Homo sapiens: one gene and its partner. The protein of the gene in region 1 interacts with the protein of each later gene in a pairwise test. Each region holds a gene or a part of one and is shown on either strand. Other genes may lie near its edges.

What was found.
Region 2: the proteins of CTR9 (region 1) and SMAD9 interact in a two-hybrid assay, tested with the Homo sapiens proteins (one large-scale study listed by BioGRID and IntAct).

What each region holds. Positions count from the first base shown.
Region 1 is NC_000011.10:10,768,036-10,771,860, forward strand, and holds part of CTR9 (RNA polymerase-associated protein CTR9 homolog), read left to right. Parts: intron 1-38; coding exon 39-126; intron 127-307; coding exon 308-456; intron 457-2,174; coding exon 2,175-2,291; intron 2,292-2,451; coding exon 2,452-2,597; intron 2,598-3,509; coding exon 3,510-3,581; intron 3,582-3,825. UniProt on the Homo sapiens protein: Component of the PAF1 complex (PAF1C) which has multiple functions during transcription by RNA polymerase II and is implicated in regulation of development and maintenance of embryonic stem cell pluripotency.
Region 2 is NC_000013.11:36,875,113-36,878,937, forward strand, and holds part of SMAD9 (mothers against decapentaplegic homolog 9), read right to left. Parts: intron 1-3,825. UniProt on the Homo sapiens protein: Transcriptional modulator activated by BMP (bone morphogenetic proteins) type 1 receptor kinase. SMAD9 is a receptor-regulated SMAD (R-SMAD).

The DNA of each region.
Region 1 (3,825 bases):
CTCGTTTGAATCTTTTTTAAGAGCACTTGTTTCTATAGGAAAAGCGTCATCAAGATCGTGCTCTGGCCATCTACAAACAAGTACTCAGAAATGATGCAAAGAATCTGTATGCTGCCAATGGCATAGGTGATTATAAGACTTGAGTACCCATAACAATTTGTTTCAAATGAATACTTTCAGAGGAATGTTTGTAAATCAGAATTTTTCTTAAAATGTGATCAATGTAGTTGTTTTAAAATAGAATTTTTAGTTGTTTTTCTGACTCCAATTAGAAAATTGTTAAGTGTGAACCTTTTTATATCTTTAGGAGCTGTTTTGGCCCACAAAGGATATTTTCGTGAAGCTCGTGATGTATTTGCCCAAGTAAGAGAAGCAACAGCAGATATTAGTGATGTGTGGCTGAACTTAGCACACATCTATGTGGAGCAAAAGCAGTACATCAGCGCCGTTCAGATGGTAATAGCTTCTCTTTCAAGATATTTTTATATCTTGTTCATTGTTAAGCAGATGTTTTCTTAGCCATTCTGGCCCTGTCATGGAGCTGCATGCTATCTCTTGTGATACTGTGTCTATTTAGAGATTTATAATTATATAATGCTAAGGCCAGGCTTTGGTATCCAGACAGAGATGTGAGTCCTGGTTCCACCACTAATTACATGCCTCAGGCAAAGGACATCCTTTCTGAGCCAGTTTTCCTATCTATAAAATGGAGATAATTGTACCTTAACTTCATAGAATTTTGTGAGGATCCCGTATGAAAACTACTTGGCACTAGCATGCCTAGCATATTAGTAATACCCAGTAAGTAGTAGGATTGAATATTTATTTGTGTATTCAGTTTCTGAAACTGAACTGTGAGTTTTAGAAAGGTTAAATGACTTATTTAAAAGAAAACAGGCCAGGCATGGTGGCTTACTCCTGTAATCCCAGCACTTTGGGAGGCTGAGGCGGCTGAGGCGGATGGATCACGAGGTCAGGAGTTCGAGACCAGCCTGGCCAACATGGTGAAACCCTGTCTCTACTAAAAATACAAAAATTAGCTGGGCATGGTAGCACGTGCCTGTAATCCCAGCTTACTCAGGAAGCTGAAACAGGAGAATTGCTTGAACCTGGGAGGCAGAGGTTGCAGTAAGCCAAGATCCTGCCACTGCACTCTAGCCTGGGCGACAAAGCCAGACTCTGTCTCGGGAAAAAAAAGAAAAAAGAAAACAAAACAGCGATAAGATTTAATGACTGTAGAATTTTTTTATGCTTACATTTGTTGAGTGCTTGAGCTCGAAATAAAAGTCATACTCAGCATCCATAAAATTAAAAAGTAAAAAGGATCTTCGGCTCTGTGGGATATATTATGGTCAGAAAGGAAAAGCTTACAAAAAGTAGACAAAAAGAGCAGTCCAGGCTCCTGAGAAGTGGTTTACCTTTTTCTAAAATGGGTGGGTTATTACCAATATTCAGAGTACTGGAAAGTCAATAATCACAGAAACTCACAGAACCTAGATTGCATATGGAGCTTCAGAGGTTGTGTTTTGTGAGGCTGGCCTTCCTGATCTGCTGAATGATAATGTTGTCTTTTATAAATGCAAATTAACTACTAGGGATATTCAGGAAAAAATGGTCTTAACCATTTTTCATGAAAAAGGTCTTACCTATGACAAGAGGTATTCCATGGTCAAAAAGTGCTATGTTCATGTCACAATTAACACTAGTATTGTATTGGTTTTACCAAGAAGTTAACAACCAGAACTGTAAGACTCCTCATGCTCATTGCCAGTAGGTTCTGCCCATTGTTAAGAAAGGTGTAGATGGTAAAACGCAAAGGACAACGGTGTATGACTTCTCATCAGTGGTCAATAAGCTGATTCTAGATAGTATTGCTAAAAGTATGAAAAAGGCTTTCCAGTCTGTTTACCCTTTCTTTCAATGTTGGTCCAAATTTCAAATGGAAAGAAACCATTTCAAGCATCTAGTTTTTCTAATGGTCAGATTTTTTATGTTGTGAAAATGTATCCTGATGAATGTCAAAAATCATTCCCCAAATTATTCTCTGAAATTAACCATTCAAAGGGTAAAACACCTTTTTACAGAGCTTTAAAATTGCAATGCCATTTTGCTACAAAATGAAAATGTCATTTATTCTTTGTTGTGTTTTAATTAACTTTTTTCTTTTACTGTAGTATGAAAACTGCCTCCGAAAGTTCTATAAGCACCAAAACACTGAAGTTGTACTCTATTTGGCCCGGGCCCTCTTCAAGTGTGGCAAGTTACAGGAATGCAAACAGACTTTGCTGAAGGTAAAAAGGAGAGATGTTATTCCCATCCATTTCTGTGCTACATTGTATTTTTTAATTCTTCGTGATGCGTGTTCACATACCTACTACTTAATAATACTCTGCTGTCTAAGATCCTTTTCATGTCATTTGAACATATGAAATATTTATTTTTTATTCACAGGCTAGACATGTGGCACCCAGTGATACAGTTCTTATGTTTAATGTGGCCTTGGTCCTGCAAAGATTAGCTACCTCTGTCCTGAAAGATGAAAAAAGTAATCTGAAGGAAGTACTTAATGCTGTGAAAGAACTGGAGCTTGCACATAGGTAAAGATTTTGTAGAAACAACCTATGAAATGCTTTATTTGGTCTATGACCATACCATCTTGAACTCTCCCGATTTTGTCTGAAATGCTTTGTTTAAAGCTATTTGTCTCAAGCTGCTGAAAATCACTTCCTTCTAAAGGTGGTCTATTAGAATCATTCCAGCAATAGTTAAGCCAAAGCAGATAGCAGCTGCCACCAGGTGGTGCCAAACTATAGTCAGGATCCTGCCAGATTTGGATCTTGTAGCTTGACCTCTAGAACTGGCTGGCTAGCTTTGCAAACTTGCCATAGATTTTTTATTAATCTGACAGTAATGTGACCCAGCATTTTACACATGTGAAATTTTTTGGACACTTACGTTGGTCTTCCATTTTACACCAATGTGTCTTTTAATGGGATGTTGATTTTCATTGAACTAGGATTAAGGTTTTACTTCTTAAATAATGCTTAATAGTTTTATTCAGTTCAGCTCAAAATTTATTTAGCCATATAGTATTTATATGGTGAGTCAGTGTGTGGTGAAATTAAAACCTGTCATCTCTTCAGGTTTTGTCCAACTTAATATTTTTATTCTTGTTTAACAATTCTTGCCTTGCCTGGTAAATTATAAGTGCTTTCATGGCCTGAGCCCCGTAACCTCCATCCTGACATATTTAGTAAATTTCATGTTTAGTAAATACTTGTTGCTTGAATTGCTTTGTGGTTATTTGTGAATTTACTGATAATATTAAATATAACTTAGACCATCTTGATGAACGTGTCTATTAAATGTAATGAGTGGCATAAATTTGTGTAAATCAGTCAATATGCAAACCTTTTCTCAGACTTTGTAGCACAGATTAAATTTTTTAAGAGCTTTATTTCATTAGAATCTCTTTTTTTAAAAGTGAAGTATTTTCTCGTTTCATTTAGATACTTCAGTTATTTGAGTAAAGTGGGAGATAAAATGAGATTTGATTTGGCCCTTGCTGCTACAGAAGCCAGGTAATGTTACTATTTATGGAAGGTGACTTTGGGTGAGGCAGTGATATTTACATGGGCTGGGAAAGTGCCACAGTAGGGAACAGAGGTTCCTGACCTTCCACAGGTCAGTCTTTCACACTTCTCTTGGGGACTCTCTAATCTTTGCCAGGACTTTTTCCTTTCAGGGAATTGGACAAAATTGCCTTAGTACAAGTACTTGAGTTCTGGGGGAAAATACTTTTCTATTTTACTTATGTCAGCTATG
Region 2 (3,825 bases), on another chromosome or scaffold:
GATCTTGGTTCTAATCACACCACTGATTTGTCAACCACAGGCAAGTATTAATAAAAACTCATAAAAAGTAAATGTTCTAAAACTGCTCTAAAAAATAAAGTCTTAAAAAAAGGTAAATGTTTTGGAATAAACAGACAATTACAATAACAATGACATTAACCCCGAAGTCTGCCATCTGCCTTTGACACCATACATCTATCTCTTTCTTAACAAACAATAATTTTCAGTTATATGGACAGAAAATAAACTAAGAAGGGTAAATAAAAGGTTTTAAACTAAAACTGCTACAGGTGAGGGTGGCAGAGAAACAAATAATTTCTTCCCCTTTTCTAAGCTATTGTATACGTATGCTGCCTTATGACACCAGAGAACAAACATTCAACATCACCATCAAACAGTGACATGGATCATAAACCATTAAATTCCCCTTAATGTATTCATATTCCACAACTATGCAGGAAAAAAAAAGATTATGTGCCTCATGAATAGTCTGAAGTGAGGAGTTGACACAGCGAATGTGTATGGCTTCTTTGTCAATGACCCTTCATCAAAATGTTAACGATGTTCAAGTAAACACTCACTTCTTTATGAAGAAGAATTTGAATCATCTCTGTGACTTCAGTTTTAATGTAAAATATCTACGGTATATTCCTAACACTGATAAAAATATAATGCCTCCTATCCATCTGAATGTAGAGACTTCTATTTCTTCATGGCCTGTAGATCTGAGGCACCAAGAGAAAAGAAAGGATACATTTCCCTTTATCATAACAACTATCTTGATAATATATTTTTACCATCTGGGTAAAATCAAAGCCAGTGGATGTTTGCAAAGAAAACTGATAGTTTCATCCTAGTTGTTATTTGACCTGACTGGCTCCGTTGCCTTAAATGTGCACTGATCATATTTTTAAATACTTTCACTCACAACACAGCTATCCCTAATTACTTAATTCCACTTCCACATCTCAACTGCTGCTTGTAAATATGACAGTGCGCTTACAGACACTCATGCCTATCTTATGCCACTTTTAAACACCATGCTATCTTTACATCTCAGTGTCACACGGGGGGAGACAGCGGAAGGAGTTACAGGGCACATGGGCATGCAAAGCAGAGCTGGAAAAAAAACACTTCTGTCTTTTTAAAAAAAGTCATGTGGTTTTGATATAATATGAATATTTTATATAAAAAAGAAATTACACTCCTGAAATAACCTCCAGCCAAATGGAGTAAAATCATCATGTACCACAACAACAGTCTTGCATGGCTTCCACCAGAACTGTGCCAGGTAAAGTGTGTCTGAGGACTGGGGACCCTTCACCAACTGTTGGGTACGAGTCTGTGAAGAAATTAGTACTTAGAAACTTTTCACAGCAATTTGACAGAGTTTCTAGTTTACACTTGTTTAAATAATTTTTAAAATTGGGCTTATATTTTCTAAGTCTTTTTAAAATTTCATTTGCCTAGTAATTTGTCTGTACTATAAAAGTGTTCGTTTGAAGGACTGGAAATTAAAAAAATAAAAACTGATCCCTCACCACACATAACTTGGAAAGCACTGAAGTCAATTATTGAAGTGGATGTGTGAATGAAAAGAAAATGGGAATGCAGCCTTCAATGTATCTAAAATGGATGGCTAAAAAATGAGATTTCAAAGGCAAAACTTAAGCTTTATGATAAATAGGAACTCAGCAAACTTGTTTAACATTAACATTTTTATTATTCCTAAAATATTTACTTTAAATATGGATAGCTAACTAGATATAAAATCTACTTTTTCTATTAAAAAAACACAAGTAAGAAAAACCTCTGTAACTTAAATATTACCTTAAATTAATATAATCGTTACCCATCTTTCCTTCTGGAAATTCACACCTAAATTATGATAAAATGAAATATATTTACCATATGTAAAACACTCACACTATCATTCCTAAAAGAATCTTACAGAACATGAAAAACTAAAGGCCAGGTATGGTGGCTCATGCCTGTAATCCCAGCACTTTGGGAGGACGAGGCAGGTGGATCATGAGGTCAAGAGATCGAGACCATCCTGGCCAACATGGTGAAACCCCGTCTCTACTAAAAATACAAAAAGTAGCTGGGCATGGTGGCACGTGCCTGTAGTCCCAGCTACTCAGGAGGCTGAGGCAGGAGAATCGCTTGAACTGGGGAGGTGACGGTTGCAGTGAGCAGAGACTGCGCCACTGCACACCGGCCTGCCAACAGAGCAAGACAAAAAAACAAAAGACATGAAAAACTAAAATGTCAAATAGTTCTTTAAAATTAGGCTTTTGAATATTCAAAAGGAAAACCAGGTACATTTTACAAGATATTTCTTACAAGTTGTTAAATTTTACAACTACATTATTCAGGAAGACAGAAATGATTTATTAATGAACATTTTTCCATTTGGATATATTTTGGATGCTTAATGTAATTCAAATCTTTGAAACACAAAATGGAATCCAGTCATTTTTGTTATAAGCTTAGACATTATTGACTTTTTTTTTTAAGTAAGCGAAAAGAGTCAAAATGAACCAGGGAAGAAGGGTGGAAAGCAACTCGCTCCAGGATTTAGGGGAAACGCATCAGATTTGCCAAGCATGTGGAACCTTCTAATACCTTCTCAGCCAGGGCCTCAGTCCCTGAATGGGCTGTGGGAGGCATCCACACACAGGTAGATGTTAAGTTCTGGGAGCTTGAAGGATCACTTAGCTAAGACTGAGGTAGGCTGGGCATAAATCACTTATTGGATACTGTTTTAAGGTTAAGTGAACCTGCCTACGTAGACAGGACCATCTCTTCACTGGACATGGGCAATTTCCCTGAGCTAATGTGCCAGCGCTTTGGTTTCCTGGGATGAGGCAGATGGCCAAAGAGAGAAAGCTCTCCTAAAACTGTGTTCTTGTGTGAAATGCCACAGAAACACTCAATCTAAGAGAATCACAGTGAAACCCTGTTATAGCCAGTGTGAAGGAACAAAGACAAACACCAGGCTTCTCCAAGAGGAGGAGGAAATATATACATATTTCTTACACACATATATATAATATACATACACACACACACACACACAGGGGTGTGAAGGGTTTTAGAAAGATACTTTCCTATACAATCATGCACTGTGTAATCATGTTTTGCTTGAGGGACCAATATAAGACAGTGGTCCCCCAAGATTATGATACTGTACTTTTGCTGTACCTCTTCTATGTTTAGATCTGTTCATATACATTCAATACCATTGTGGTTAGGATTGCCTACAGTATTTAGTACAGTAGCATGCTGTGCAGGTTAGTAGCCTAGGAGCAATAGGCTACACCATATAGCCTAACGGTGTAGCAGGCTCATGGTTTGTGTAAGTACACTCCAGGGTGTTCACACAAGGAAGAAATTACTTACTGATGCATTTCTCAGAATGTATTTCCATCATTAAGTGATACCTGTCTGTACTTAAAACCATTTTTAAAAATAACTGCCTGGAATGATTTCCAGCAACTCTTTCATTGGCTGTTTTCAGACCTAGACATGAGATATCTTCTACTTACCTGAACTTGAACAAAGTAGCAGCCAAAAACCCTGCCTTAGTTCAGTTTAGTACAGTTCAGTTCAGTTGTTTGGGGCGGGGGGAGGAGGATGTTTAATTTTTACAGCTCATCATTATCAAGGCCATTTTAAAACCTTTCAGGACCCCAAGAACTGGTAAAAGATTATGTTGACTTGTCCCAGATACCTCAAAATAAAACTTTTATGGCAGTTTTCTCCGATTAGCCATCTGCCTCATTTTCAAAATCACACAAAGCTTACCAGCATAATGAAATC